Linked DNA regions of Homo sapiens: all the other regions are linked to region 1. Evidence: fine-mapped expression QTL. A gene starts in region 1. Each other region holds a variant in brackets. All regions are shown on one strand. Distances are from middle to middle. Region 1 holds the start of CCDC144A (coiled-coil domain containing 144A). Region 2 overlaps PEMT (phosphatidylethanolamine N-methyltransferase). Region 3 overlaps CCDC144A (coiled-coil domain containing 144A). Region 4 overlaps CCDC144A (coiled-coil domain containing 144A). Region 5 holds the start of SMCR2 (Smith-Magenis syndrome chromosome region, candidate 2). Region 6 overlaps CCDC144A (coiled-coil domain containing 144A). Region 7 overlaps PEMT (phosphatidylethanolamine N-methyltransferase).

The links. PIP is the estimated chance that this variant, and not a neighbour inherited with it, causes the effect.
Region 2: its variant is fine-mapped to the expression of CCDC144A in whole blood (TOPMed, PIP above 0.99).
Region 3: its variant is fine-mapped to the expression of CCDC144A in skeletal muscle (GTEx, PIP above 0.99). The same link has a PIP of 0.9 or more in atrial appendage, breast, esophagus mucosa, esophagus muscle, fibroblasts and lung.
Region 4: its variant is fine-mapped to the expression of CCDC144A in visceral fat (GTEx, PIP above 0.99). The same link has a PIP of 0.9 or more in atrial appendage, esophagus mucosa, esophagus muscle, fibroblasts, lung and sigmoid colon.
Region 5: its variant is fine-mapped to the expression of CCDC144A in whole blood (TOPMed, PIP above 0.99).
Region 6: its variant is fine-mapped to the expression of CCDC144A in subcutaneous fat (GTEx, PIP above 0.99). The same link has a PIP of 0.9 or more in atrial appendage, breast, cerebellar hemisphere, esophagus mucosa, esophagus muscle and fibroblasts.
Region 7: its variant is fine-mapped to the expression of CCDC144A in whole blood (TOPMed, PIP above 0.99).

What each region holds. Positions count from the first base shown.
Region 1 is chr17:16,688,082-16,692,147 of GRCh38, forward strand. It overlaps CCDC144A (coiled-coil domain containing 144A), which reads left to right and starts at 2,160. Exons shown (of 17, transcript NM_001382000.1): 1 at 2,160-2,663. The coding sequence starts at 2,320. It also overlaps the pseudogene RNU6-405P. RefSeq lists an enhancer at 1,150-2,053.
Region 2 is chr17:17,573,556-17,577,621 of GRCh38, forward strand. PEMT (phosphatidylethanolamine N-methyltransferase) reads right to left here. Exons shown (of 7, transcript NM_148172.3): 2 at 3,365-3,472. Among named protein-coding and RNA genes, the nearest start is that of PEMT, 16 kb to the right of the region's middle. RefSeq lists an enhancer at 3,046-3,791. The variant T/A (reference allele first, on the strand shown) is at 1,564.
Region 3 is chr17:16,774,471-16,778,536 of GRCh38, forward strand. It overlaps CCDC144A (coiled-coil domain containing 144A), which reads left to right. Exons shown (of 17, transcript NM_001382000.1): 17 at 1-3,411. Among named protein-coding and RNA genes, the nearest start is that of FAM106C, 12 kb to the right of the region's middle. The variant G/T (reference allele first, on the strand shown) is at 2,432.
Region 4 is chr17:16,757,557-16,761,622 of GRCh38, forward strand. It overlaps CCDC144A (coiled-coil domain containing 144A), which reads left to right. Exons shown (of 17, transcript NM_001382000.1): 13 at 3,869-4,066. Among named protein-coding and RNA genes, the nearest start is that of FAM106C, 29 kb to the right of the region's middle. The variant C/T (reference allele first, on the strand shown) is at 2,035.
Region 5 is chr17:17,674,391-17,678,456 of GRCh38, forward strand. It overlaps SMCR2 (Smith-Magenis syndrome chromosome region, candidate 2), which reads right to left and starts at 3,298. Exons shown (of 4, transcript NR_131243.2): 1 at 3,185-3,298; 2 at 1,820-1,981; 3 at 976-1,132. RefSeq lists an enhancer at 1,014-1,642. The variant C/T (reference allele first, on the strand shown) is at 1,653.
Region 6 is chr17:16,768,922-16,772,987 of GRCh38, forward strand. It overlaps CCDC144A (coiled-coil domain containing 144A), which reads left to right. Exons shown (of 17, transcript NM_001382000.1): 16 at 3,056-3,098. Among named protein-coding and RNA genes, the nearest start is that of FAM106C, 18 kb to the right of the region's middle. The variant G/A (reference allele first, on the strand shown) is at 2,468.
Region 7 is chr17:17,510,275-17,514,340 of GRCh38, forward strand. PEMT (phosphatidylethanolamine N-methyltransferase) reads right to left here. Exons shown (of 7, transcript NM_148172.3): 4 at 2,235-2,380. Among named protein-coding and RNA genes, the nearest start is that of RASD1, 16 kb to the left of the region's middle. RefSeq lists enhancers at 2,455-3,324, 3,325-4,066. The variant C/T (reference allele first, on the strand shown) is at 2,305.

The DNA of each region.
Region 1 (4,066 bases):
TGTTTCTAATTATTTTTTTCTCACTGACATGTATCAATATTTTTTCAAAGTGCCACCCTTAAACTGAGTCTGTTTTCAGACCAGCATCTTCATGCATATATCCTTGTCAGGTCACAGTCTCCACTGCAGCTGCTCTTGCGGGTGGTGCTGGAATTTTCCACAGAGGACTGGGCTCCTGCTGGTTCCTCCGCTGCCCGTGTGCAGCTTTCTTGCTCAGGCCACAGGCTTACGTGAAGATCACCCTTCAAGGCCTACCCAGGACACTGCTGAGCTGTGCAGATGTGCACACGATATGTGCAATGTCATACGTGTGACTAAATGCCAACTGAGACCCCAGAAACCACTCATAGGGGGAATTATGCCAAGATTGAGGAGGCAGGGTGATACTTTTTTTCTTTTTCTGTTTTTTTTTTTTTTTTTTTTTTTGAGATGGAGTCTAGCCCTGTCGCCAGGCTGGAGTACAGTGGCATGATCTTGACTCACTGCAACCTCCACCTCCTGGGTTCAAGCGATTCTTTTGTCTCAGCCTCCCGAGTAGCTGGGACTACAGGCACGTGCCAGCACGCCCAACTAATTTTTGTATTTTTAGTAGAGAACAAGGGGTCACCATGTTAGCCAGGATGGTCTTGATCTCTTGACCTCATGATCTACCTGCCTCTGCCTCCCAAAGTGTTGGGATTACAGGTGGGAGCCACTGCGCCCGGCCACAGATATTTTGTAAATGATTGCTTCCTTACGCCTTTCTAGTTCATGTTTTCTTATACATAGTTACATTTCTTCTTTGCTATACTAAAAATCCCTAATTTTAGTTGGTCAGAGAGAGGGATTTGAGACTGAGCTCCCATCTCCTCGGCTGCAGCATCTGATTAAAGCCTTCTTCCTTTGCAATACTCATCTCAGTGATTGGCTTTCTGTGGGTGAGCAGCGCAGGATCTAGGCTGAAGCCCTGAGGCTTCAGTGACAAAATCTGTTTTTCATAATGCTATCTGTCTTAATTGTCCTCAAGAATTAGTATTTGAGTGCTCTCTAGATTCTCCTTTGTCACCCTTCCTTCCTTTCTTTCTTCCTTTCTTCCTTCCTTCTTTCCTTCTCTTTGCTTCGTTCTCTCCTTCCTTCTTTTCTTTCTTTTTTTGAGACGGAGTCTTGCTCTGTCGCCCAGGCTGGAGTTTGGTGGCACGATATCAGCTCACTGCAACGTTCACCTCCCGGGTTCAAGAGATTCTCCTGTCTCAGCCTCTGGAGTAGCTGGGACTACAGGCACGCGCCACCACGCCCAACTAATTTTTGTATTTTTAGTAGAGAGGGTTTCACCATGTTGGCCAGGCTGGCCTCAAACTCCTGACCTCAAGTGATCTGCCCGCCTCAACCTCCCAAAGTGCTGGGATTACAGGTGTGAGCCACCGCGCCTGGCCGTCACTTTTCTTCAATCTCACTGGTGCTCGCGGGCTGAAGGGTCAGGACGGACTAGAGGCGAGCAATCCTGGTGGCACCAGGCGTTCCCCGACCCGCCCGGGTCGCCAGCTGCACGGACCCTGGGCAGATGCGCGCAGCGGCTGCGGCACACGGCGGGGAGCGGCTGCTTGGCCCCATCCTAAGGCAGCAGAATGCCCAGAGCTGGTCCCTGGCTCCAGGCGCAGGCCGAGTAGGAGCTGGGCGGGCAGCGGCGTCGGGCAGGCCCTTCCAGCCGGGCTGACAGGCCGCTCTGACCCAGCCATCTGACTCCGCTTGCGTCCTGGCAGCGCGGACCCTAGGGCAACTTTGCTGCAGTGGCCAAGCCGGGGGCGGAACTGACCCGTACCCCTGAACCGAGCAAGCCTAGGAGCAGGTGCGCCGGCGGCGCTGTGAAGCGGCACTCATGACAGGCAGGCTGGGCACCGCCACCCCGAAACCTCCGAGGGAGGACCAGCCAGCCCAGGTTGGCGCTGGAGCTGCAGCGCCACCTGCAGGCCAAGGAGTCTTTTTCTGGGAGGCTGGAGCTGCAGCGCCACCTGCAGGCCAAGGAGTCTTTTTCTGGGAGGCTGGAGCTGCAGCGCCACCTGCAGGCCAAGGAGTCTTTTTCTGGGAGGCTGGAGCTGCAGATGCAGTGAAGTCACAGGTTCCGTGATGTCACAGGTGGGCAGGCGCACTGGTCTGTAACGGATTGGCTTGGCCTTACCCACGAGGCTTTGCGGTGGCTGTTGGCTTGGCGGTGGTCGCTTGGCTTGGCGTGGCAGTGATCGCTTGGCTTGGCATTTCTGGCTTGGCGGTCCTCCTTTCGCAGATTGGAAACCGCGGGCTATCCTGCTGGGAGGTTGTGGCCGAGGCAGTAGCTCGCTACTGATGGCCTCCTGGGGTGGAGAAAAGCGGGGAGGGGCTGAGGGGTCTCCGAAGCCGGCAGTCTACGCCACGAGGAAGACCCCTAGCGTCGGGAGCCAGGGGGACCAGTGGTACTTGGGCTACCCGGGGGACCAGTGGTCCTCGGGCTTCCCCTACAGCTGGTGGAAAAACAGCGTCGGCAGCGAGAGCAAGCACGGTGAGGGCGCCTTAGACCAGCCCCAGCACGACGTCCGCCTGGAAGATCTTGGCGAGCTCCACAGAGCTGCCCGGTCGGGCGACGTCCCTGGGGTGGAGCACATCTTAGCTCCTGGAGACACTGGCGTGGACAAGAGGGATAGGAAGAAGAGGTAATGGCCAGGCGAAGGATGCGCCGTCCTGTCGGGGACACTGGCTTTCTGGTGCCCGCAGGCCCCACGGCACCCGGGATGGGGAAACGTCAGAGGGGTCAGGGGCCCAGGCCTCTTAGTGAGACGGGATCAAATATAAAGGATTATTACTATTGCAAAAGTGTTGGTCTACTTTACAGGAGTTTTCTTTAAAAATATTGCACTTCCCAACTGTGTTTATCCATTTTCTCAATTTATTCATCAAACATAAGCTGAATACCTATTATACAGCAGACATATTCTACTGTCGCTCAGGTTCCTTCCATCCTTAAGAACTTCATGTTGGCCGAGCTCGGTGGCTCATGCCTGTAATCCCAGCACTTTGGGAGGCCGAGGAGGGCAGATCACGAGGTCAGAAGTTCGAGACCAGGCTGACCAACATGGTGAAACCCCGCCTGTTATGCTTTTGTCTCAGCCTAGACTTAGCTAAGACCTTCATGATAAATTATCCTTTAGGCCCTCGGGGTTCAGTTCAAATAATGTTGCAGAAAGAGAGGAGTTTCCTTTTTTCATTGCTACCAGATCTGTATGCTGAGGACCCTTTTCTTAGATCGTGGAATGTCCCATATTATCCTTTCCCAGATTTGTGGCAGGAAGCCATCACCAGAATTCTGAGTCTCAAGTATGTTAGTTGGATTTAACAGAGCTAAGTCTCATCCATGACTCATGAATATCCATGTATAAAATGAGAGCTTTGGCAGGGTGCAGTGGCTCATGCCTGTAATCCCAGCAATTTGGGAGGCTAAGGTGGGCGGATCACGAGGTCAGGTGATTGAGAGCATCCTGGCTAACACGGTGAAACCCCGTCACTACTAAAAAATACAAAAAAAAAATAGCCGGGCGTGGTGGTGGGCGCCTGTAGTCCCAGCTACTCAGGAGGCTAAGGCTGGAGAATGGCATGAACCCAGGAGGCGGAGCTTGCAGTGAGCCGAGATCGCGCCACTGCACTCCAGCCTGGGTGACAGAGCGAGACTCAGTCTAAAACAAACAAACAAACAAACAAACAAACAAAACTTGCTTCAGCAGCAAACATATACTGAAATTGGAACAAAATGGAGAGAAATTAGCATGGCCCCTGCCTGCATAAGGATGATGCACAGATTTTTGAAGTGGTCCATATTTTGCGCAGTCACTAGAAGTTCATTTGACTATTTGCTGACTAGTTCCAAAGACAGTGTGAGTCAAAGCAAACTGGGTATCACCTAATATTAAAATTGTGATTTTTCACTACAAAAATATGCAGTAAGGTGATCAATGGAGCTGAGTAACACGTGGGATGTTGTGTGCAAATATATTGTCAGTATGTATCTCAGAAATGAGAGAATGTCAACTTGCATGTCTTTCATGGAACTGAAAAAGAAAAG
Region 2 (4,066 bases), 890 kb after region 1:
CACTGTCTTGGGTATGATAAGTAATCTAGAGATGATGTAAAGTATATGGGAGGGTGGGCATACGTTATACTCGAATACAACATTGTTTCCCATCAGGGACCTGAGCATCTGCCGATTTTGGTATCCACGGGGAACTGGAACCAATCTCCTATGGATACCCAGGGACAACTGCATTGATAACTATTAAGTTATTTAAGTGCTTCCCTGGTTGTGGCCTGTTGGCCTGTCTTTGTTTTTGTTTTTTAAGACAGGGTCTTGCTCTGTTGCCCAGGCTGGAGTGCAGTAGTGTGATCACAGCTCACTGCAGCCTCGACCTCCTGGGTTCAAGTGATTCTCCTACCTCAGCCAACCCAGTAGCTGGGACTACAGGTGCACACCACCACACACGGCTAATTTTTGTATTTTTTGTAGTGGCAGGGTTTTGCCATGTTCCCCAGGATGGTCTCCAACTCCTTGGCTCAACTGATCCACCCACTGGGCTTCTGGCATCACAGAGCTGGGCCTCGTCATCCCATTCCAGATGCCGTCCGGATACTCTCCCCGGCAGCAGCCCACGGAACTGCAACATGTTTCTTAACTTTTCTCCTTTTGAAACCACTTTGAAGAGCTCACTCCCTCTCCCACCAATGACCACAAACTGTTCCAGTGAAAAACTATCTCAAAATGAGACTAATCAAAAGCTTATGACCAAAAAAAAAAAAAAAAAAAAACCGTATGCCAAACACACAGACACATGCTGTCTTCCAAATCTTACTGCATCTTTTTTTTTTTTTTTTTTTTTAAAGACAGAGTCTCACTCTGTTACCCAGGCTGGAGTACAGTGGTGCCATCTCGGCTCACTGCAACCTCCGCCTCCTGGGTTCAAGAGATTCTCCTGCCCCAGCCTCCCGAGTAGCTGGGACTACAGGCGTACACCATCACATCCGGCTAAATTTTTGTATTTTTAGTAGAGATGAGGTTTCACTATGTTGGCCAGGCTGGTCTCGAACTCCTGACCTCAGGTGATCCACCCACCTCAGCCTCCCAAAGTGCTGGGATTACAGGCGTGGGCCACCGCGCCCGGCCAAATCTTACTGCATCTTAACCACTCTGCCATTCATGAGCCACTGAGAACCTTCACAATGAACTTCACTTTAAAAACACACTGTTGGCTAGGCTAGTGGGAAGTGACCTGAGGGGGCTTGTGCATAAATAAAAGCGTCCTCAGGACCTGCTATGCATTCAGCCAGCCAAGCTCCCAGTGCTGGGAGACCCATATGTACCTCAATGACTGCTGGTCAACGTCAGGCCTGCAGGAAGCCAGAGGGCAGGGACCTCCTCCGGCTGTAAGAGCCCAACATCTCCCTCAGAGAAGGACTGTGGACAGCCAAGAGCGTGGCACACCCAACACTCCAAAGGTTAGGCCCACAACGTCTTCCAGCAGGGGTCTTTGGCTTTTTAAATACCCTGGCCTCGCTTCCTGTGGCTGCTGTAACAAATGACTGCCAACTTAGGGGCTGAAAACAACAGCAATCCCCAATCAGTTACCACTGGGCCAAAATCAAGGTGCCGACTGGGCTGTGC[T/A]TCCACCAGAGGCTCTGGGGGAGACTCCATTTTTTGCTTCTTCCAGCTTCTGGTGGGCCTGGCCTTCCTTGGCTAGTGGCTTGGTCACTCCAGCCTCTGCCTCCATGGTGACAAGAGACACTCCTGTGTTTCAATGTCCCTGTGCCACTCCATTGTTAAAAGGACACACACAATGGCACTTAGGGCCCACCTGGGTAACTCAGGGCCATCTCCCCAGCTCAAGCTCCTTGACTTCATCACGTCTGCAAAGATCCTTGTGTGTGTGCCATATAAGAGACCTTCACAGGATGTGGACGTCTTTGCAGGACCATTTTTCAGCCTCCAAACACCCTCCTCACCCTTCACCACCTCATATCTCTGGCATGCTGGGTGTGTGCAAAGGTGAAAGGAGAGAGGAAGCATGCAGGCCAGGCAGTGGGAGGAAACGCCAGGATGGCCAGGCACTTCGGCTGCAGCCCTGGCTCCAGAGGCCCATGTCAGGAGGCTGGGGCCAGCTGGGGACGGTGTGGCTGAGAGTACAGGTGCTCCCCAGCCCAGCCAAGGCTTCTCAGGAGAAAGGGGTGTCCGGGAGGCCTGTGTTTGGCTACACCAAGCTCGCCAGTCTCACTCCCACCTCTGGACCTCCCCTCGAAGCCCCTCCCTTGTGGGCCGCCAGAGCATCCATCCTCGGAGTGTGTCCAGCATGTTCAGGACAGCAGGAACAGGGCATTCTTTGGAATGCACTGTCTTTGACATGAGCAGGCTGGCCCCCACCCACTTCTCTCACCAGATGGAGAAAAATCTCAAGTCATAAACTAAATGAAAAACATGTCCTGTTCTGCCCTGGGATCAAGGGTTCACCTTAAATGAAAACTGTCTGGAACAATGTGCTGCTGACGCTGATCTTGGCCTTACTCTGCAGATTAGCCTCGGGGGTGATCACAGGACGCTCAGGGCTCTGCATCAGCAAGCCCAACCCCCGCTGAGCCCCAGGACCACCCACTCCCCCAGCAGGATCCCCGGGAAGCAGCCCAGAAGCACCCCCCAGAGACAGCCTTGGGAGAGCGGGCCAGGAACCCCAAGAGCTTCACCCCACAGTCTGGGAGGTGTGGGAGGCATCTCAGAAAGGCTGCAGAAGGAACTGACGGCCCTCCCCTCCCACACTTTCCTCGAAGGGCCCAGAGCCCACTTCCCATGCAGTCCACCCACCCCTCGGTGCTGGTGCCCGGGCACCCAAACATCCCCTGGCACCCATCACGAGCTGGTGCCACGCTGGTGGCTTCCTTTCAACTCATGCCGGCTTGCTCCTGCCACCCAGCTCGCCTAGGTCCGGAATGCGCAGGCCGTTTTGCAGGAAGCCTCATGTGGGAAAAATAACCATGTTTGTGGAACACACGAGGGGTGGGAGATTCACAAGCAAGTGGCTTTACTGTGTGACATGGCAGAGAGGGAAGAGAGCCCCTACTTCCTGGGCAACCCACTTCATGCATGAGAAGGCCACCAGACTGCCAGGCACATGTGACCAATGGCAGCCCCACCATGGCAGCGTTCTCCTGCAGGTTCTTGTGAGGGTAGGAGGGCCACCCCTACAGTCCTGGACCATCCTGACGCCAGCCTGGGCAGCCCAATGGCTGCTGGATCCCCAAGGCAAGACGGCAGGAAGCGCCTAGTACTCCACACCAGCCAGCGACAGACACGGGAGGGAAGAGCAGAGCTGTCTGTCTGTCTGGCCAGCCAGCAGCAACCACCGCGATCCCCTGCATGTGGGGCTCACCAAGCAGTGAGATACTCCCGTCTGGACAGTGTCAGGCACATCACTTACCACATTCCAGTAGAGCGGATTGAAGGTGATGGTGATGACGGCAGCCACAAAGCTGGGATCCAGGGGGTCCACGTAGCCCAGCAGCCGGGTCATAACGCAGAAGTCTGCCTGCAGGGACAGAGCTAGCATCAGCACCACCCAGACACAGCAGGGCCTGTGAGCCCCCAGGAGTCGGAGAAAAAGTTACCCTCTGGGAACACACTGGGAGGCCTGGGAACATCCAAGTCCGGCAAAGGTTACTACAGTGTAGTCTCATAAAAGGGAAGATAAAAAGCTGAAACCTAATGAGCTGTGTCATGTCCTGGGAGGGCGGCCGCAGAAATGTGCCTGGATGCCAGATGAGGAAATCAGCACCTCTGAAGAGGGGTGCCTGGCACCCTGAAGGGAGGTGACACCAACCCTGGTGTGACCGAGACCCTCCTGGATGAGGGTTCTCAGAGGCCCCAGAGGAAACCCAAGCAGCTGAGATAAATGTGAAGAGATGCTCAACCTACCAGGAATCAGGTAAAAGCAAATTAAAACAATAGTGGTGTGCCTCTCCTCGCCCACACTCGACAGGGGACAATCTTGAGTGCACACGAGGGTGTGAGTGGGGCGGGGTAAACTGAAAAAGTGTGTGCCCACATCCCGGCCACGCCACCCGCATACGGGGGGCACGTGGACACTGCCCCCGCCCCGCCATCATCTTGCATGAAAACGTCA
Region 3 (4,066 bases), 86 kb after region 1:
AGTCTGGAACAGTTCCTCAGTTTTTCTTTGACCTTTATGACCTTAAATCTTTTGAAGAGTAAAGTCCAATAATACAGAATGTCCCTCCATTGGATTTCTCTGAACTTTTTTTATGATAAGATTTAGATGATAATTTTTTTTTTGGCAAGAGTATCACAGAAGTTATCCCATGATCTTCTCACTGCATTCTATCAGGTGACCTGCAATTATTATTATTTTTTATTTTCATCTTTTAAGTTCAGGGGTACATGTGCAGGATGTGCAGGATGTCCAGGTTTGTTACATAGGTAAATATGTGCCATGGTGGTTTGCTGCACAGATCATCCCATCACCTAGGTATTAATAATAGCCCAGCATCCATTAGCTGTTCTTCACGATGCTCTCCCTTCTTTCACCCGCCACCATCCCACATGCCCCTGTGTGTGTTGTTCCCCGCCATGTGTCCATGTGTTCTCATTATTCAGCTCCCACTTGTAAGTGAGAGCATGCAGTATTTCATTTTCTATTTCTGCGTTGGTTTGCTGAGGATAATGTTCTGCAGCTCCACCCATGTCCCTGCAAAGGACATGTCTCATTCCTTTTCATGGCTGCATAGTATTCCATGGTGTATATGTACCACATTTTCTTTATCCAGTTTATCATTGATGGGCTTTTAGGTTGATTCTTTGTCTTTGCTATTGTGAATAGTGCTGCAATGAACATACGTGTGCGTGTATCTTTATACTAGAATTAGTTATATTCCTTTGGGTATATACCAAGTAATGGGATTGCTGGGTTAAATGGTATTTCAGGTTCTAGATCTTTGAGGAATCACCACACTGTCTTCCACACTGGTTGAACTAATTTACACTCCTATCAACAGTGTAAAAGCATTCCTGTTTCTCCATAATCTTGCCAGCATCTTTTCATTTTTTTGAATTATAGCCATTCTGACTGTTGTGAGATGGTGTCTCATTGTGGTTTTGATTTGCATTTCTCAGATGATCAGTGATGTTGAAGTTTTTTTGTTTGTTGGCTGCATGTATGCCTTCTTTTGAAAAGTGTCTGTTTGTGTCCTTTGACCACTTTCTAATGGGGTTGAGTTTTTTTTTCTTGTAAATTTGTTTAAGTTCCTTGTAGATGCTGGATATTAGACCTTTGTCAGATGGATAGAGTGCAAAAATTTTCTCCCATTCTGTAGGTTGTCGGTTTACTCTGTTGATAGGTTCTTAATGCTGTGCAGAAGCTCTTTAGTTTAATTAGATCCCATTTGTCAATTTTGGCTTTTGTTGCAATTGCTTTTGGCATCTTCGTCATGAAATCTTTGCCCTTGCCTGTGTCCTGAATGGCATTGCCTAGGTTTTCTTCCAGGATTTTTATAGTTTTGGGTTGTAGATTTAAGTCTTTAATCCATCTTGAGTTAACTTTTGTATATGGGTTAAGGAAGGGGTCCCGTTTCAATTTGCTGCATATGGCTAGCCAGTTCTCCCAGCACCATTTATTAAATAGGGAATCTTTTCCCCATTGCTTCCTTTTGTCAGGTTTGTCAAAGATCACATGGTTGTAGGTGTGTGGTCTTATTTCTGGGTTCTCTATTCTGTTCCATTGGTCTATGTGTCGGTTCTTGTACCAGCACTATGCTGTTTTGGTTACTGTAGTCTTGTAGTATGTTTGAAGCTGGGTAGCATGATGCCTCTAGCTTTGCTCTTCTTGCTTAGGATTGTCTTGGCTATTTGGGCTCTTTTTTGGTTCCATATGAATTTTAAAATAGCTTTTTCTAGGTCTGTAAAGAATGTGAATAGTAGTTTAATGGGCCTAGCATTTAATTTACAGATTGCCTTGGGCAGTGTGGTCATTTTCACGATATTGAACCTTCCTGTCTGTGAGCATATGTTTTTCCATTTGTTTGTGTCATCTCTGATTTCTTTGAATAATGGTTTATAGTTATCCTTGAAAAGGTCCTTCACTTTTCTTGTTAGCTGTATTCCTAGGTATTATACTCTTCTTGTGGCAATTGTGAATGGGAGTTAATTCATGAGTTTTCTCTCGGCTTGCCTGTTGTTGGTGTATAGGAATGCTAGTGACTTTTGCACATTGATTTTGTATCCTGAGACTTTGTTGAAGTTGCTTATCAGCTAAGAAGTTTTTGAGCTGAGATGATGGAGTTTTCTAGATATAGGATCATATCATCTGCAAACAAAGATAGTTTGACTTCCTGTCTTCCTATTTGAATAGCTTTTCTTTCTTTCTCTTGCCTGATTGCCTTGGTGAGAATTTCTAATACTGTGTTGAATAGGAGTGGTGAGAGAGGGCATCTTTGTCTTGTGTCAGTTTTCAAGGGAACGCTTCCAGGTTTTCAGGTACTCAGGCAACAAATAGCGTTACAATAGAATAGTACCTCACATCTCAATGCTAATGTTGAACGTAAATGGCCTAAATGCTCCACTTAAAA[G/T]ATATAGAATGGCAGAATGGGTAAGAATTCACCAACCAAGTTGCTGCTGTCTTCAGGAGACTCACCTAACACATACGGACTCACATAAACTTAAGGCAAAGGGTTGGAAAAAGACACTTCGTCTAAATGGACACATCAAAAGCGAGCAGGAGTAGCTGTTCTTATATCAGACAAAACGGACTTTAAGACAACAGCAGTTTTAAAAAGACAAAGAGGGACATTATATAATGATAAAAGGACTAGTTCAACAGGAAAATATCACAGTCCTAAATATATATGCACCTAATACTGGAGATCCCAAATTTATAAAACAATTACTACTAGACATAAGAAATGAGGTAGTTGGCAACACAATAATAGTGGGGGATGTTAATACTCCGCTGGCAGCACTAGGCAGATCACCAAGACAGAAAGTCAACAAAGAAACAATGGACTTAAACTATACCCTGGAACATATGGACTTAACAGATGCTTACAGAACATTCTACCCAACAAGCATAGAATATACATTGTATACATCAGAACACGGGACATTCTCCAAAATAGACCATATGATAGGGCACAAAACAAGTCTCAGTAAATTTAAGAAAATCAGAATTATATCAAGTACTCTCTCAGACCACAGTGGAATAAAATTGGAAATTAATTCCAAAAGGAACACTCAAAAGCATGCAAATACATGGTAATTAAATAACCTACTCCTGAATGATTGTTGGGTCAACAATGATATCAAGAGGGAAATTTAAAAATTCTTTGAACTGAACGATAATAGTGACACAACCTATCAAAAACTCTGGGATACAGCAAAAGTGGAGCTAAGAAGAAAATTCATAGCATTAAATGCCTATATCAAAAAGTCTGAAAGAGCACAAATAAACAATCTAAGGTCACACCTCACAGAATTGGAGAAACTAGAACAGTCCAAATCCAAACCCAGCAGAAGAAAAGAAATAACAAAATCAGAACAAAACTAAATGAAATTGAAACAAAAAAATACAACAGATAAATGAAAAAGCTGGTTCTTTGAAAAGATAAATAAAATTGATAAGCATTAGCAAGATTAATCAAGAAAAGAAGAGAGAAGATCCAAATAAGCTCTATTAGAAATGAAATGGGAGATATTACCACTGATACCACAGAAATACAAAAGATTATTCAAGACTACTATGAACATCTTCACATCCATAAACTAGAAAACCTACAGGAGATCGATAAATTCCTGGAAATATACAACCCTCCTGGATTAAATTAGGAAGATATAGAGACTCTGAACAGACCAATCAGAAGCAGCAAGATTGAAAATGGTAATTTAAAAATTGCCAACAACAAAAAAGTCCAGGACCAGATGAATTCACACCTGAATTCTATCAGACATTCAAAGAATTGGTACTCATCCTATTAACACTATTTCACAGGATAGAGAAAGAGAAATCTTCCCTAAATCATTTGATGAAACCAAAATCACCATGATATGGTTTGGCTCTGTGTCCCCACCCAAATCTCATCTTTTAGCTCCCATAATTCCCACATGTTGTGAGAAGGACCCAGTAGGAGATGATTGAATCATGAGGGCGGGTCTTTTCCATGCTGTTCTCATGACAGTGAGTGAATGTCACAAGATCTGATGGTTTTAAA
Region 4 (4,066 bases), 69 kb after region 1:
AGCAGCAGCAAGCAAAGTGGCCTTGTCTTCAGGCTCTCATATGGCTCACATGGGCGCCACCCCTGGTGGGCTTGACAGGCTTGTTCTCAGGCTCCTGCATGGTACACTTGAGTGGGCCAGTCCTCCGGCCTCCTAAAGGTATGTACAGGTATGCACAGCACTGCCCCTGAAGGGGATAGGGCTGCTGGTGGTGGCAGTGGTGTCAGTCAGGTGGCTCCTAGGCTCTAGACAGCACACACTTAGGATCCCTTTGACCTAGAGTAGCTTCCCTGGTGGGCTATTAGATGACCACCTATTTCCACAGGTATATGGTGCTGTGGGGCTAGGGATTTGGGGGAATCGGTCCTGGTTTTGAGATGATCCTGGTTGGGCTGGCTACCTCAGTTCCCTTTCCTTCTGTCATCAGAGGATCCCTATCAATTTCCTGCTGAATTCCAGTATACTCTCTTTGATGTTTTCCTCAAGGTGTGGTTACCTACTTGCTGTTTTGGTTTTTCTTTTTGAAAGAGGTGAGTGCTGGGTATTCCCAGTCAGCCATCTCGATGATGTCTCTGTCTATGCTGTGCATATTAAGGAATGTATAGACGTGTTTTAAAACCTGCACAATTGACCCTATAACTATAATTTAAAAGATTTCTACCACTTGAAAAACACACTAATTTCTAATTATTACCTCTCACCCCACACACAGGTTTTATTTAATATGGCAGAAGACTCAGGCTTAAAGTGCAAGATCCTAACCTCCCATCACACACACACAAGTTTCATTTAATATGGCAGCAAGCTCAGGCTTGAAGTGCAAGATCCTACCATCTTTATCACAGACGGTAGGGATGCACCCTGGGTTGTGGTTTCTGCGGTATAACCCCTTGAGTGCATTTCTTGTCAACACAAAGACGTAAGAACTAAAGGGACAACTTGTCTACCACTCACCCACCCAGCATTCTCCTAAACTGCCAGAGACCCTCCTATTGAACAGAGAGAAAATGGGAGTCACAAAGGGAATATTAGACCATAGAAATTCTGAAATACAGCCTGATGTGTGCTTCCACTTACTTGATTTGGACTTCATGGGAACCATCCTCTGTGGCTTTTTGTGGTACCTTCTTGGCTCTTTGTTGTATCCTTTTCATAAGCAATGACCTGTGTTTTCAGCTAAGTAGTTTCTTCAGCCAGCTTCCTCCCTGTAGAAGCTCTTAGGTCCTAAGGCCTCTTTTCATTTTTACTGTCTTGTTGTCTTTTAAGCCAAGCTAGCAAGCAGTGCTATTGTTACTATAATTCTCTTAGAGTCTCTTGTGAATTTTACTTGAGTTCTTGTCATTGGAAAAACCACTTGTCCCAATCTCTTTGAGATAAGCACTTCACCTTGTGCTTCCTGTGAAGGAAGCACACTGTTCTGTGTAGTACGACAGTGCCTTAAGATGCGTATACCCTTAAGATCTTTAAGGGAATTTGAGGCACCACCTTAAATCTTTCTAAGGTCTTAAAATAGAGCCTTACACTGACAGTCTTGGCTTCACCTTCAGACTTTCTCCTGGCAGCACCCTGGATTTGATCTTATCTCAGAGGCCATTTATCTCAGCAATACAGATGCTCCTCAGATTAGGATGGGTTTATGTCTGGATGGCATTTGCATTTGTTATGTCTGATATTTGTAATTTATAGGCCATCATAAATTGTAAATATCAGAAGTTATGGGTGGGTTTTCCATTTACGATAATTTCCATTTACAGTGACTTTATCCTGATGTAACCACCCCTGTAAGCCAAAAGGCTTACACATATCATGTCATTACTCAACACATATCATTTTCACAGTATTATAAAAAGTCAGAAAATGGTGAGTCGAACCATGCTAAGTCAAGGACTGTCTATATTTGGGAATCTGACATGTGGAGAGGCTATAAAAAGGATACTGAACCTAGAAAGTCCTGGTTCTTTTATATGTAGTAGTCTTTCTTTAGCTTATCTCTTGCATTGGTTTTACTTTCAGCGGCTGTGTAGTAACAGTGCCCTTTCCTTCAGGTTCCCGTAT[C/T]GTTTTCTTCACTATCCTGGAGCCCTTCCTACCAGCTTCTTCGAGGACCATCAGGCTTCCACTAACAGTCTCTTTAAAACTCTTCTTGTTTTTGTGCTTATTCTTCTGTAGGTCCTTTCAGCTTCTGATTAGCTCCTGGTCCAATGGTAATCCTACATGTTTTAGTAGTTTTTGTTGTGTTGTTGTTGTGCAATCTATATGTAGTGTCAATATCTGTATCAGTTATTTCTTGGTATATAACAAAATGCAGTGTCTCAAAACAACATCTATTTTGTTCACAATCTGCAGTTTTAGGCAAGGCTCAGTGGGGCCAACTCCCTTTTTCTTTACTTGGCATCAGCTGAGGTGACTTAAAGCTGGGGACTAGAATCATCTAAAGGCTTGTTTATTTACCTGTGCGGCATTCGAAGCTGGCTTTTGGCTGGGACGTTAGGTAGGGAAGTCAGCTCGAACACCTACCTACATGAGGGTTCATGGTATGGTTTGGGCTTTCTCACGGCATGTTGGCTGCATTTTAAGGACAAGCGTCCCTAGAGAGAGAGTCAGGTAGAAGCTGTGTGACTTTTTGTAACCAACTTTAGAAGTCACACAGCAGTTCTGCCACATTGTGTTCCGGAGAAACCGGTTGTCAATGCCAGCTTGTATTTAGGAGAGGGAATGTCATGGGAGAAGTGGCAAGCAATTTGTAGATGTTTTAAAACCACCACTTCACTTACCTTTATAAAATAAAAAACAATCATAATTATTTCCTCTAAAGGAAAGCAGTTATTTCCAACTCAGCACCATTGAAATTTCAGTGCAATTTTTTGTTGTCATTCTTTAATGTGCTCCCTTATTTTGTGTAAAGTAACAATGAATTACAAGATTGTGCTACTGAATTAAGGCATTTTTCTTCAGAAAAATGGTATGGATCATGCCACTGAACTTTTATACTGGGAGATGTGATTGCTTCTTAACTCCAAGTATCATTACTCTTTGAAATGTAACTCAAATTAGCGTAAGACATTTGCAGTTCAGCAAAAGGCTTATGGTATTGGAATCCTTTTTTTTTTTTCAAAATGTATTAATTAGAGTCTTATTTTCAGAGTCTTATTATGGGAGCCATTTATTGACTCAGGCCCAAATAATTCAATATGATGCCCCTAAAACTTCTCTGCAAATTATGGAGAATGATAGTGGGTTAAAGGAATAAGAGACTTTGTGCTAAAGGGGTAACTTAGAGCCATTTTAAGGAGGAAAGCCATGAAACAGTCATAGGAAAACAGAAGTCTAAGATCAAGTCCAAATGTTGTGTGGCAAAGATGATGAAAGTAAAGGATGTATTTTTGTGAATTCTGGTGGTTTTAACTTTGTTTTTAATTTTCTGAGTAATCCAAGGGTCTGTATTTTATGAATCTACAACAGTATAGGTAACATTTTATTGCAACTGAATTTATTTCAAAAATTATTAGTTTTGGCTGGGCGCGGTGGCTCACGTCTGTAATCTCAGCACTTTGGGAGGCCGAGGCGAGTGGATCATGAGGTCAGGAGATCGAGACCATCCTGGCTAACACGGTGAAACCCCATCTACTAAAAATAAAAAATAAATTAAAAAAAATTTAGCCAGGGGTGGTGGTGGGCACCTGTAGTCCCAGCTACTCCAGCTACGCAGGAGAATGGCCTGAACCCGGGAGGCAGAGCTTGTAGTGAGCCGAGATCCTGTCACTGTACTCCGGCCTGGGCGACAGAGCGAGACTCCATCTCAAAAAAAAAAAAAAAAAAATTATTAGTTTTTTGTTAGACCATTCTCAGTCTACCTTCTTCATTACAAAACTATATTGTTTTACTCATGCAGATTGACCTTACAGAAGCACAGGAAACTGTACCTTCACGATGTCTACATCTGGATGCAGAGAATGAAGTTCTTCAACTTCAACAGACATTATTCTCTATGAAAGCAATACAAAAGCAATGTGAAACACTACAGAAGAATAAGAAGCAGCTGAAACAAGAAGTAGTAAACCTCAAAAGTTATATGGAAAGAAATATGTTA
Region 5 (4,066 bases), 990 kb after region 1:
AAGAAGGCAGATCACTTGAGGTCAGGAGTTCAAGACCATCGTGGCCAAAATGGTGAAACCTTGTCTCTACTAAAAATATAAAAATTAGCTGGGTATAGGGGTGGCCACTTGTAATCCCAGCTACTCAAAAGGCTAAGGCAGGAGAATTGCTTGAACCCAGGAGGCAGGAGTTGCACTTAGCCGAGATCATGCCATTGCACTCCAGCCTGGGTGACAAGAACAAAACTCCATCTAAAAAAAAAAAAAATAAAATAAATAAATAAATTTCATCATAAGTTTTGGAGGGGACAGTCAAACCATAACACTAAGTATTAGCACATTAATCTAAGAATTAGCATATTAACCTAAATGTTGTTTGTGGAAGATAAAATGTGTATATTTTCATAGTTTAAATTTCATTTTTCAAAACAAAATTCCAATTAAACATTTTTTTCCCAATTACTAAGAAATGTTGGTTCCCAGAGCTTTGACTTGTGGTCAAAGTGGTCTTTTTCTTGGGATAATGAGACCCTTCTTTAGAGTGGGTTCAATGTCTGTCTCACTTGCCAGACTATGGGGGCTGTGTGGTGGGTCCCACATCATTATTCCTGGAGATGGAATCTAGAATGAGGTTTGGCTCGGCTGCACGCAGTGGCTCATGCCTGTAATCCCAGCACTTTGGGAGGCCAAGGTAGGCAAGGCAGATCACTTAACTCAGGAGTTCAAGAGCAGCCTGAACAACATGGCAAAAACCCATCTCTACAAAAAATACAAAAATTAGCTGGGCGTGATAGCGTGCACCTGTAGTCCAAGCAACTTGGGAGGCTGAGATGGGAGCGGTGCTTGAGCTTGGGAGGCTGAGATGGGAGCGTTGCTTGAGCTTGGGAGGTTGAGGCTGCAGTGAGTCATGATTGTGCCACTGCACTCCAGCCTGGGTGACAGAGTGGGATCCTGTCTGAAAAAAAAATATTGCCTAGAGCTAAGTGGGGCTCTCACCTGCTCCCTCTCTTCTCTCTGCTAGAGACCAGAGGCCTTGAAGGAAGGAAGCCCAAGGGTCTCTCCTGGCTCTGCTTCCCCATCACTGCCTCCACTTCCCCGCATCCCTTTCCCTGGCAGAGGCTTCTTGCCACAGGGCTCTGGGCACTCACAAGACCTACAAAAGAAAGGTTCACATTCACATTTGTCTTCTCTGTAGAAGTGCTGGAGGCTGATGGGGTGAGGGGGAGCAGCAACAGTTGGTGGTCCAGAGTTCTACAATGTTGAACTGTTTTAAATCGTCATAAGCCCAGGAGGCACGGATTGCTACACTCCTCGTTAGAAACCAGAGTCTCAAAGAGGGTGAGGAGGTACCCAAGGCCGTGCTGTTGGTGGCACGGTGGCAGAGCTGGGGCAGGAGTTCTGATTTTCCATCTCATTCCTCTGTTACTGTCTAAGCAGAGAGCCTGGGTGACAGCTACCTACACAGAAGAAGGTATTCTGGGAGAGTTTCCTCCCCTCTCTAGGCCTCTATGTTCTCTGCAAAATGGAGATAATAAGACTGAAATGCACATAGTAGGTGCCAAATAAGTACTAGCTACATGCTTGCTAATGGGAGTCCTCCTGCACACTCACACTCTGCCTGGGCTCTGTAAGAACAGCCCGGAGCCTCCATCCAGTTTTCATCGCAGAGGAGG[C/T]GGGGCGGCAGCGTGGGCAGGAGCTCAGGCCAGGAGAATCCCTACTCTAAGTATGACTGTGTGATCTTGGGCAAGTGACTTCATTCCCTAAGTGTGTTTCCTCATCTGAACAAGGAGGCTATTGAAATGCAGGTGAGACCTAGTGAGACAGCGGCTGCGGGAATCACCTGGCCACAGTAAACGCCCTTGCATCCTATTGAGTGAGCCAAGGATAAGCGTGGTCCCTGGCAGGGTGCAGGATTCTATCCTGAAATACACCCCCTCCACTTTCTCCTATTCCAGTCCACCGGGGCCTCTCCTCCAGGCAGGAAACATGATCTCCTTTTGACCTATGAGAAAACAGACAGGAAGTTCAAGGCCACACAGATGTGAGTGTTAAGAACCCTGGGGGGAAGGTGTCTGAAACCCAAGGCTGTGTGTGTGTGTGTGTGTGTGTGTGTGTGTATGTGTGTGTGTGTGTGTCGGGGTGTGCTGAGGGGTTGGTCAGCCAGGTGATTTAAATGCGGGTATAGAACAATAGGTAGTGGTGGGGCCCCGAAGAACTTAGATTCCTTAAAGATATTTATTTTCTTTCTCTTTCTCTTTCTCTTTCTTTCCTTTCTTTTCTTGCTTTTCTCTCTCTTATTTTTTTTTTTTGAGATGGGGTCTCACTCTGTCCCCCAGGCTGGAGTGCAGTAGCACTGTCATGGCTCACTGCAGCCTCGACCTCCCTGGCTCAAGCGATTCTCCCACCTCAGCCTTCCAAGTAGCTGGGACTACAGATATGCACCACTATACCTGGCTAATTAAAAACAAAACAAAACAAAACAAAACTTTTTTTTTTGTAGCGATGAGTCTCACTATGTTGCCCAGGCTAGCCTTGAACTCTGGGCTCAAGTGATCCTCCCGCCTTGGCCTCCCAAAGTGCTGGAATTACAGGCATGAGCCACTGCACCTGGCAACGTATGTCAACTTCAAAATTTTCACTTTTTGCTCTGCTTTCCAATCAAAACAAACCTAGCAGCCTGAGTTCGGCCTTTGAGCTGCAAGTTTGAGACTCTGCCCCAACACTGACTTTATTGAGCCTCTGCATTGCATAGCGTGCACACCCCTGCTCACCCTTCTACCTGTGTGCAACTAAGGATGACAAGCAGGGTCAGCAGCAGAAGTGTCTTGGGGCTAGCTCTGCTGACAGTGATCCCTGATCAGTTCCTAGTTCTCTTCTGAGAAGACTGAGCCCTCTCAACCAGCATCATTCAGAGCAGTCTCAGGATGGTTAGGCCTATGGCTGTCCTCCTCTGGAAGGGCCCTCGTTTGTTCAGAAGCCTCCCTGGTTAAAGCAGGCAGAGGAAAATCACTCTTGAAAGCTCAACTCACTAATCACCTCCTCCAGGAAGCCTTCCCTGAATTCCTTGACAGGACTAGGTCATTACTCTGCATGCCTGGGCACCACAGCACTCTTCATGGGTAACTTTCACATTGCAACCCAGGGTCTAACCCAGTGTCTGACCCACAGTGGGCTCTCCATGCATGAAATGGGTGACTAAACTCACCTGCTGTGTGACTTTGGATCAGTGACTTCACCTCTCTGAGCCTTGATTTTCTTATCTGTAAAATGAGTTGAGGCAAGACAGCATTCAGAGGGTCCTTGCAGATGTGATTAAATAAATTAAGAGTCTTCTTGAGATGGAGGGATTAGCCTGGATTATCCAGGTGGACCGGAATGGAATCACAAGGGTCCTCATGAGCAGAGGCAGGAAGGTCAAGGGAGGAAGTAGAAGCTGGGACAATGGAAGCAATTGTTTTCTTGCCTGTTCTAGCTTCTGGAGGTCACCAAGGGGTCACAAGCTGAGAAACACAGGCAACCTCCAGAAATTGGAAAAGGCAAGGAAGAGATTCTCTCCTGGAGGCACCAGGAGAGCTAGCCCAGCCCACACCTTGGCTTTAGCCCAGTGAAACTGATTTTGGAGTTCTGACCTCCAGAACTGTAAAGAATAAATCTGTCTAGGCTGGGCAACATGGTGAAACCCACTCTCCACAAAAAATACAAAAATTAGCTAGGCTTGGTGGTGTGGTATGTGCCTGTGGTCTCAGCTACTTGGAAGGCAGAGGCACGAGAATCACTTGAACCCGAGAGGCAGAGGTTACAGTGAGCCAAGATTGCGCCACTGCACTCAAGCCTGGGCAACAGAGCAAGACTCTGTCATAAATAAATAAATAAATAAATAAATAAATTAATTAATTAATTAATTTGTGTTATTTTAAGCCACTTGTGGAATTTGTTACAACATCCCTAGGCACCTGGCACACAGTAGGTACTCAAAAGTGGCAGTTCTGGTCAGGCGTGGTGGCTCACACTTGTAATTCCAGCACTTTGGGAGGCCAAGGCAGGAGGATCACTTGAGCCCAGAATTCAAGACCAGCCTGGGCAACAT
Region 6 (4,066 bases), 81 kb after region 1:
GCTGTGGTGGATAGGCAGCAAATGGTGCTCCTCCTTCCCTTCTGAGTTCAGAACACAGGAGTCAGATAGATGGACATCAACACACTAGCTCTATTGCAGACTCATGATAACTAATGGGAGGATGTGGCTCAGATGTGCAGCCACAGTATTTTATCCCAGATTAGGCACTAATCCACAGAGTTTTAAGTGGAGAAAACAAATGCTTGACACCCATCGCAGGTGCATGCTGCTTACTGCAGAGATGACAGCAGACCTGAACTCATGTCACTGTGGGCAGACACATCTTTTGAAAGAGACCCTGAGCCAAGCAAGCACACTGTGTGCTTTGCCCAAATTCACCCATTAGGTAGATCTGATATCCTCTCAAGAGGAAGCTGTAGGTAGAGAGAGTCTAAGTCCTCATTTGAAACCTGAGGCCAGGAAAATGAAGGTTCTCCTATCATTTATGGCTGGATTTAAGTGATAATTGAAATTAATCCCATGTCTTTGTATGTACAAATTAATGATGAGAAGTTGGACAGGCGTATGGTAGATGGTAAAGAGAAATCTGTTTTGTGTTTTCAGTTTTTCTATAAATAACTCACAACATGGATAATTGACTTGATTGATTTTCCTAAACCACGTCTTATTTGGAGGAGAATGAATAGTTCTTTTAAGGAACAGTTTTCTTAATTTCTGCTTGCTTGGTTCAACTAAAGATTTTCTCCTTCAAGTTTTCTGTTCTGCGGTTTGAAAAATGGGTTCTTTATAAATTGAGTGTCTTGACTGGTACTAGCCAGAAGTTATGATATTAATTGTTCTTTAAATTTGATTCATAACTTACAATTTGGAGAGCTACTATTTTTTGTCTCATGCTTAAACATTATAGAGCATCATGACAGTTTATAGATGCATTTTCTCTTTTTTGTTGTTGTTGTTGTTTTTGAGGCAGAGTCTCACTCTGTCTCCCAGGCTGGAGAGCAGTGGCGTGATCTCTGCTCACTGCAACCTCTGCCTGCCGGGTTCAAGCGATTCTCCTGCCTCAGCCTCCTGAGTAGCTGGGACTACAGGTGCACACCACCACGCCTGGCTAATTTTTATATTTTTAGTAGAGACGGGGTTTCACCATATTGTCCAGGCTGGTCTTGAACTCCTAACCTTGTGATCCACCCAATTCAGCCTCCCAAAGTGCTGAGATTACAGGCGTGAGCCACCACACCTGGACTGTCTGAGTTATTTTTTTATTTTTATTATTATTATTATTTTTGATGCGGAGTCTGACTCTGTCACCCAGGCTGGAGTGCAGTGGCACGATCTCAGCTCACTGCAAGCTCCGCCTCCTGGGTTCACACCATTCTCCTGCCTCAGCCTCCTGAGTAGCTGGGACTACAGGCGCCCACCACCATGCCCGGCTAATTTTGTGTATTTTTAGTAGAGACGGGGTTTCATTGTGTTAGCCAGGATGGTCTTGATCTTCTGACCTTGTGATCCTCCCGCCTCGGCCTCCCAAAGTGCTGGGATTACAGGTGTGAGCCACCGTGCCCAGCCTGAGTTATTTTTAAAAATCTGTATTTCTTTTCTGAATATGAAGGAAGGTGCTGGCATAGAATAACTCCAGGCTCAGTGAAAGATCTGAAGCCCACTCCTACCTTGTAACTAATTGGTTTTGTGACCTCAGGCAAGCTGCAGTCTCTCCGAGCCTGTTTTGTTTCTTATGTAAAATTAAGGACTTTGACTAAATCAGTGACATTCATACGTTTAAGTAAATCTCTTTTTTTTTTAAGAATGGAACTTTTTTAAATTGCATAAAACCACATTATAGAAAACAGAAGTAGTGCTGCCTGACTAAAGGAAGGATCAGTGCTCTGAAGCTGTGACTTTCTTATCCCTTAATCCTTCAGCATCCTCTGTGGAACCTTAGATTTCTGTGGGACATAGCTTGAAAAGGATCATTTCTTGAATTATTACTTTTATAAGGCCTGGATGGTAATGCTGTTGTCATGTTACCTACTCTATAAAGCCTATCTATAATGTTTTTGTCACAGAAATGTTATGGAAAGGAGTCTCAAAATATTGGTAAACCTGTTAGTAAAAAAAAAAATTGACTTGACACCTAAAATTTCTAAAGGCATTAGATATCATTATCTTTATCACCACAAACTATCTCAGACCCCGTTCTAGGCATTTAGTGAGAGAATACCTATTCTAAAAAAAAATTAAATAAGAGCACTCTAGATAGGGACACTGGCAATAAGTTTGAAATATTCTGACACCTTTCATAATTAAGTAGATAACTATAACTTGTCAGATGCTTAAAAAATGGGTACTAATTTCTGAAAAGAAATCAAAGTTGCAGTTAAATAACTCTAAATTGTTTTCCTAGTTTTTAATTCTAGACACTCATGAATCAAAGAAACTAAGATTGAAAACTGGCTCTAACCTGTATTTATCCTTGTTTTTATGTAAATTTTCTGAAATCTTTGTGTCC[G/A]TATGAATGAAGAAATGTTAATCATAATAGCATAATATTTTTAATCTTTTGCCAGTGGAACTTTCACATGGCATCACAACAATACTGCTTTCTTCAAGTATGTATTAAAGATTCTGTGCTGAATTAATAGCAAAGAACATACTTTGAAATTATTATTTTCTAAAAGTGGAGAATGGGGAGTTCATTGTAAGGAACTATTCATTAAAGTGAAAAACTGGTTAGACCTTGATAAAGGGCAGAGTTTTGATAAGAATGGGAAAGTAATGCATTCATTGCAGAATATGACTTGAATTGTGTAACCTCTGTACTAATAAGGGAAAACATCACACTTTTGAAATGACATAGCTCCAACAGACCAATATTAATTGTACTTTTGTGAGATTAATCTAAACAGCATAACACATATATGTTCTCCATTATCTAAACTTAAAATAGGTAGGAATTTATATGATATTTTTAATTTAAGCAATCTTCAAGTTAGGTCTAGTCTGTAAAAGTATTATTTAAAGGCCGCATTTTGTAATTAATGCTCCTTACCATGATAATGTATCTTCTTAAACGTTATAAATAATATTTGACTTATTTCAGATGCAGCAGAAGTTGCAAAATGATCTAACTGCAGAAGTAGCAGGTATGTTACCAAAATTTATGAATTAAATTTAGATTAAGTAATATATATCTGAAATAAACTGCAAACGACATCCCTTTCCGTTCTTGGGCTAGTAGATACTACATTAAATATTCTTTCATATACATCTAATGAAAGATGTGAAAACTTGAACATGTATAATGAAGAGCATACTTATGCCTCATGAATTCATCACGTTCCATAGCTTGAAAAAAATAGCTCAAGAAGTCTGGCTCTACTCTTCACTTCTGCCATCCCTATGGAATTGTCAGCCAGCACACAGAAACGGTTCTCAGAAAACAGAAGCATCATCAACTTCTCAGGGTTATGGTAGTGATTTTTAAGGCCAAAACATCCCAGTCTCATCTAGTAACCTATTCAAGCAGTTACAGTTTATAAGCAGTCGCTTGAGAGGTAACACTTTAAATCTCCAGTCATTTACAGTGTCATTGGTTTACTTTTGCCCTCAGAAAAAGTTCCAAATTCCTTAACATGTAATATAAACACCCACATTCATTTGGTTCTTGTCAAGTTACTCAGGCTTATCTCTCACCACTTACTTTACTCTGCCCCTTTGCTCTAGGATCCAGCCAAACTGGACTGCACAGAATTCCACAGTGCTCGTCCTTCTCCTCCAGCTCTTTGCACTTGCTTCTTTGCTCTATCTGCCAACCTTTTTTTCTCATCCTTCAGGTATCCACTAACCATGCCTCCACCGAAAAGCCTACAGTATCGAGACAAAACTGGGATAGGTGTCCCTCTTGCATTCCAATAGTGCCCTGTTTTATACCTGTCAGGGTATCTATGACTTGGTATGGAAATTGCCTATTTGTCTGCTTTTTCAGGTTATAGCATATGATTGCTGAGGGGTGGACTGTATCATCTTCATCTTGTAACTCCAGGGCATAGTCTAGTACCTTAGCATGTGGTTGTTGAATAAATGAATGAAGAATGAGAAAACCAGAAGCTGT
Region 7 (4,066 bases), 820 kb after region 1:
GCCGGGGTCACAGTCACAGTGTCTGTCCCAGGCCCACAGAGGACAGTCCCACTGGACACAGAGTAACCGCTCCATAAAGGGTGTGGCTTCGTTCCTCCCAGCCTTCTGTCCCCAGAAACCCCTCATTTGTCTCTCCTCCCAGAGGACAATGGAGCTTCATCCAAGGCGGAAAGTAGGGCAGCTGCCCGACAATGGGCAGCATGGGCAGGAGGGGTCCAGGAGCTTCATCACCATCTGGGGACACGGGGCAGGGCCCAGGACCACTGGAAAGTTCTTTCTTCCCAGGAAGCAGGAAGTGGGGCACAGGGTGTGCGTAGATGGCACAGAAACCCAATTCGAGCTGAGTCACAGCAGGAAGTGACCACCTTTGCCTACATACCGCGCTGCTGGTCCTCGGTGTTTCTAGGCCATGTCTGCTGGCAGGGCCGCCAGGAGGCTGTGGCCACTGGTGTTTGCAGGCTCCTTCCCTCCCTCTGACTGTCCAGGACCCCCAGCTTGTTCTTCCACTGCTGAGGGGCTCCACCCACCATCCTGGCTCTCCTTACGCTGCCTCTGCAGCCCTCCCTGTCCAGATCCACCCGAGCACTGGCCACTGGAGGGCCCCCGCCGCTGGTCTCCCACAGGACCTGATTGCACAGCCCGGAGTCCCCCTTCCCATGGGGCCCTCACCGCCCTCACATCCTGGAAGGGCCCCTCCACAGCTCCTCCTGAGCCCCACCTCTGATCCTGGCTCCATCGGTCCAACCTCTTCCTTGCTGGGACCCCCCCTATGGCTCCCACCTCTCTGGGGATGGAGCCTCAGCCCCTTGGATGGCCTTCAAGGCCTCGGCTCATCCTCCTGCCCTGTCCCAACCGACAGCACCTGTGCGGCCAGTCCAGCTGCCCCCCACCTCCAGCTGCCAGCTACTCTGCCCTCAACCTCCCTCTCCTTGCACCAAGGCTTTTTTCTCTTTCCTACCTGCCCGCACCTGCCCCCACCTGGCAGATCCAGACGCTCCTGGCTGCTGTCCCCCTTCCTGGACCAAACTCCCTACAGCGTCTGCCTGAGCAGGAAGCACTGAACTGCCTGTGGGTGCCCCCCACAGTCCCAGAGAGGCCTGGCCATGGGCGATCCAGAATGCTGCACCCACAGATGCCACTTCCTCCCTCGGGGGGACCCCTACTGGCAGGCACAAGCTCCTTGAGAACTTGGAGTGCCCTGTGACAGCCCACGGTGCCCTGGGGGCTGGGCCCAAGGAGCTGTAGCCGGCATCTGAGGATGGGGATGGCAGGCAGGCCCGGGAGCTCCTCAGGACACCGTTGGTCCCAGGAGGCTACTGAGGCCACTGAAGCCGAGTGACTTCCAAGCTCCTGCACTGGCCAGGGCTGATGGGGAGGAAGACGTGGGCCTTCCCACCCATGACGGAGAGCGGGCAATGCGGCCAGCTGGACCAACTCCCTGCTCACTGGGAGGGGCTCCCCTTGGACAGGGACTGCCTCCTTCTCTCCTTCCAGGTTCCGAAGGCCCCCTCTTGTCCCCCACCCCTGCCCCCATCTCCCCTCCCACCCCGACCCCTACTGCCTTTCCCATGGCTGCTTTTCTTTCCCAGATTCCAAGGAGCTGGAAGTTGCTGCCATCATCAGGGTCATTGGTGGGCGTCTAGCCAGGCCAGCACTGGGCTCACAGCCTGAAAGCACCTCAGCCACAGGCAGAGGGAAATGGAGAAGGGATAAGGTGCCTCCACCCCTCACCCCTCCCCAGACCTACACCAGCCCTGCCTGCGGCCAAACACGGCACAAACCACAATCCTGCCTGGCCTGAGAGCCACGCGTGCCGGGAGCTGCCAGAGAGGTGGCTGACTCACCACCACCTCAGGCTTCTGTGCAACAAGGCCTGAGAGTCTTCTGCAAGGGGGAGCTGGTGCTGGAGCTGGACTCAAGGAGTCCTGCACCCAGCCCGGGCCGCAGAACGGGCATTGAGTGCATCTTCATTAGCTGGAGAGAAGCAGCAGGAGCTGCCTTCACTCCCCAGGAGGCAGCCGCTCAGCACGCTGGGGTAAGAGGAGCTGTTGGAGCCCAGCCTCCTGTTCTAACCACAGACAAGCCAGGCCTGGAGGAGCAAAGACGCCCCGATGGAGGGGGCCCCTAGCACTCCCACCGATGTCACGGATAGCAGGGCAGCAGCCACCTGGCCCTGCACCTCCCTGGGGCTCCAGCGGTCCTGCTCAGGGTCACCCCAGCCCTCAGGGTCTTACCTAGGAAAGTTCCAGCGAACCCCAGTGCAAAGAAGCTGGAGAGCACGAGCACGACGCCCAGTCCCAGGAG[C/T]GCGAGGCCCAGGCTGTAGGCCGCGGGGGTGTCCAGGCTCTCCATCCTGGGCTGGCTCAGCATGGCCTGCGTGAAGCTGTGGGCAGGGGATGGAGAGGGAGGACGTCATGGCCAGGGAGGATGTCACAGCCCGGGAGGAGGCCGACCTCATCTTCTCGCCCTCTCCCCAGGGACCCTTAGAGAGTAGCCAGCCCAGGGCTGCCAGGCCAGGCAGGCAGCAGGTGGGGTCCAGTCCACCTGGGAGGTGGGTGACAGTAACAGGGAGGGGCCCAGGCCTGTCAGATTTTTAAATTTTTTCAAGAGAAGCCAGAAATCCTGACTCGTATGTGAAATATCCTAATTTTTAGAAATAGACAATTCATGAAAGCCACTTTAGACCCTGCATGTGAGCAGGCTGGATTCAGCCCGAAGGCCACCAGCTTGCAAACTCTCATCCTGTCCAATGAGCAACTCATACTATGGAGGAAAGTGAGGCTCAGGAAAGACGCAGGTGCCAGGTTGCAGGGCAGGCCCAGGTGTCCCATTCCCCAACAGACTCAGTGCCCCGAGGCCTGGGGCATGCTCTGTGCTAGGGATTGCGCTTCCACAGCCCCTGTGGGTCTGGCCACATCCTGGGTGGCTTGACTTGCATTTAAAGGCACTTTGGGGGCCCTTAATGTCCTCCTCCACACCTGAATTCCCCCACTAGGCTCCCTTTGGGGCCAAACCACTGAAGGCCTTGTAAAAAGGTAGTGGGGTCCAGGTGTGGTGGCTCACGCCTGCAATCCCAGCACTTTGGGAGGCCGAGGTGGGCGGGTCACCTGAGGTCAGGAGTTCAAGACCAGCCTGGCCAACATGGTGAAACCCTGTCTCTACCCAAAATACAAAAATTAGCTGGGTGTGGTGGTGGGCACCTGGAATCCCAGCTACTTGAGAGGCTGGGGCACAAGAATCGCTTGAACCCAGGAGGCGGAGTTTGCACACCACTGCACTCCAGCCTGGGCAATAGAGCGAGACTTAGTATCAAAAGAAAAAAGAAAAAAAGAAAAGGCAGTGGCGTGACCAAAAGGGGGTGACTATGACAGCAGTGGGTCTAGAGGCTCAGGTTCTCCAGTTGGCTCCGGAGAACTGAGGGGCTGGTGCAGGGAGGGCACAGGGGCTAGGCATGTGCTGATGTACCCAGGCCTCATCACAGGGGAGCGGGCGCTGGTGGGAAGGGGGCCCTGGGTGCTAGATGAGAGGCACACTCACAGGAAAGGCTGTGTGTGGGAGCACGGACATGTGTGACCAAATGTGCTCTTCCCATGCTCACAATAATCACAACACAGAAGAGACATGGAGATCTGCTACCTCACGCAGGGCAGCGCCTTTCACACCCAGTCTGTAGACGGCATCTCCCAGCAGGGCCAGCTTACCATCCACCCCACCACCCATCCTTCCTCCATCCATCTATCCTCTATGCACCCACACATCCATCCATCTGTCCAGCTATCCATCCTTCCATCCATCAATGTATCCTCTATCTGCCCACACAACCATCCATCCATCCACCATGAAGTATCTTTGTTTGCTAGGCTCTTTCAAGCAGATTGAAGCCCCCATCTTCATCCACTCGTTCCATTCATTGGTGAATTCAGATTGTTGTGAAACTCCTTATGCTGAGCTAAGGACATACAGACATGTCTTTATGCCTCCCTGGAACTCCTTCCTCCAGCTTGACTGGGAGCTCTTGGGGAACAGAAGTTGCTCCTCCTTCCCTGCGTATCCCCCCAGCACTTGGCCC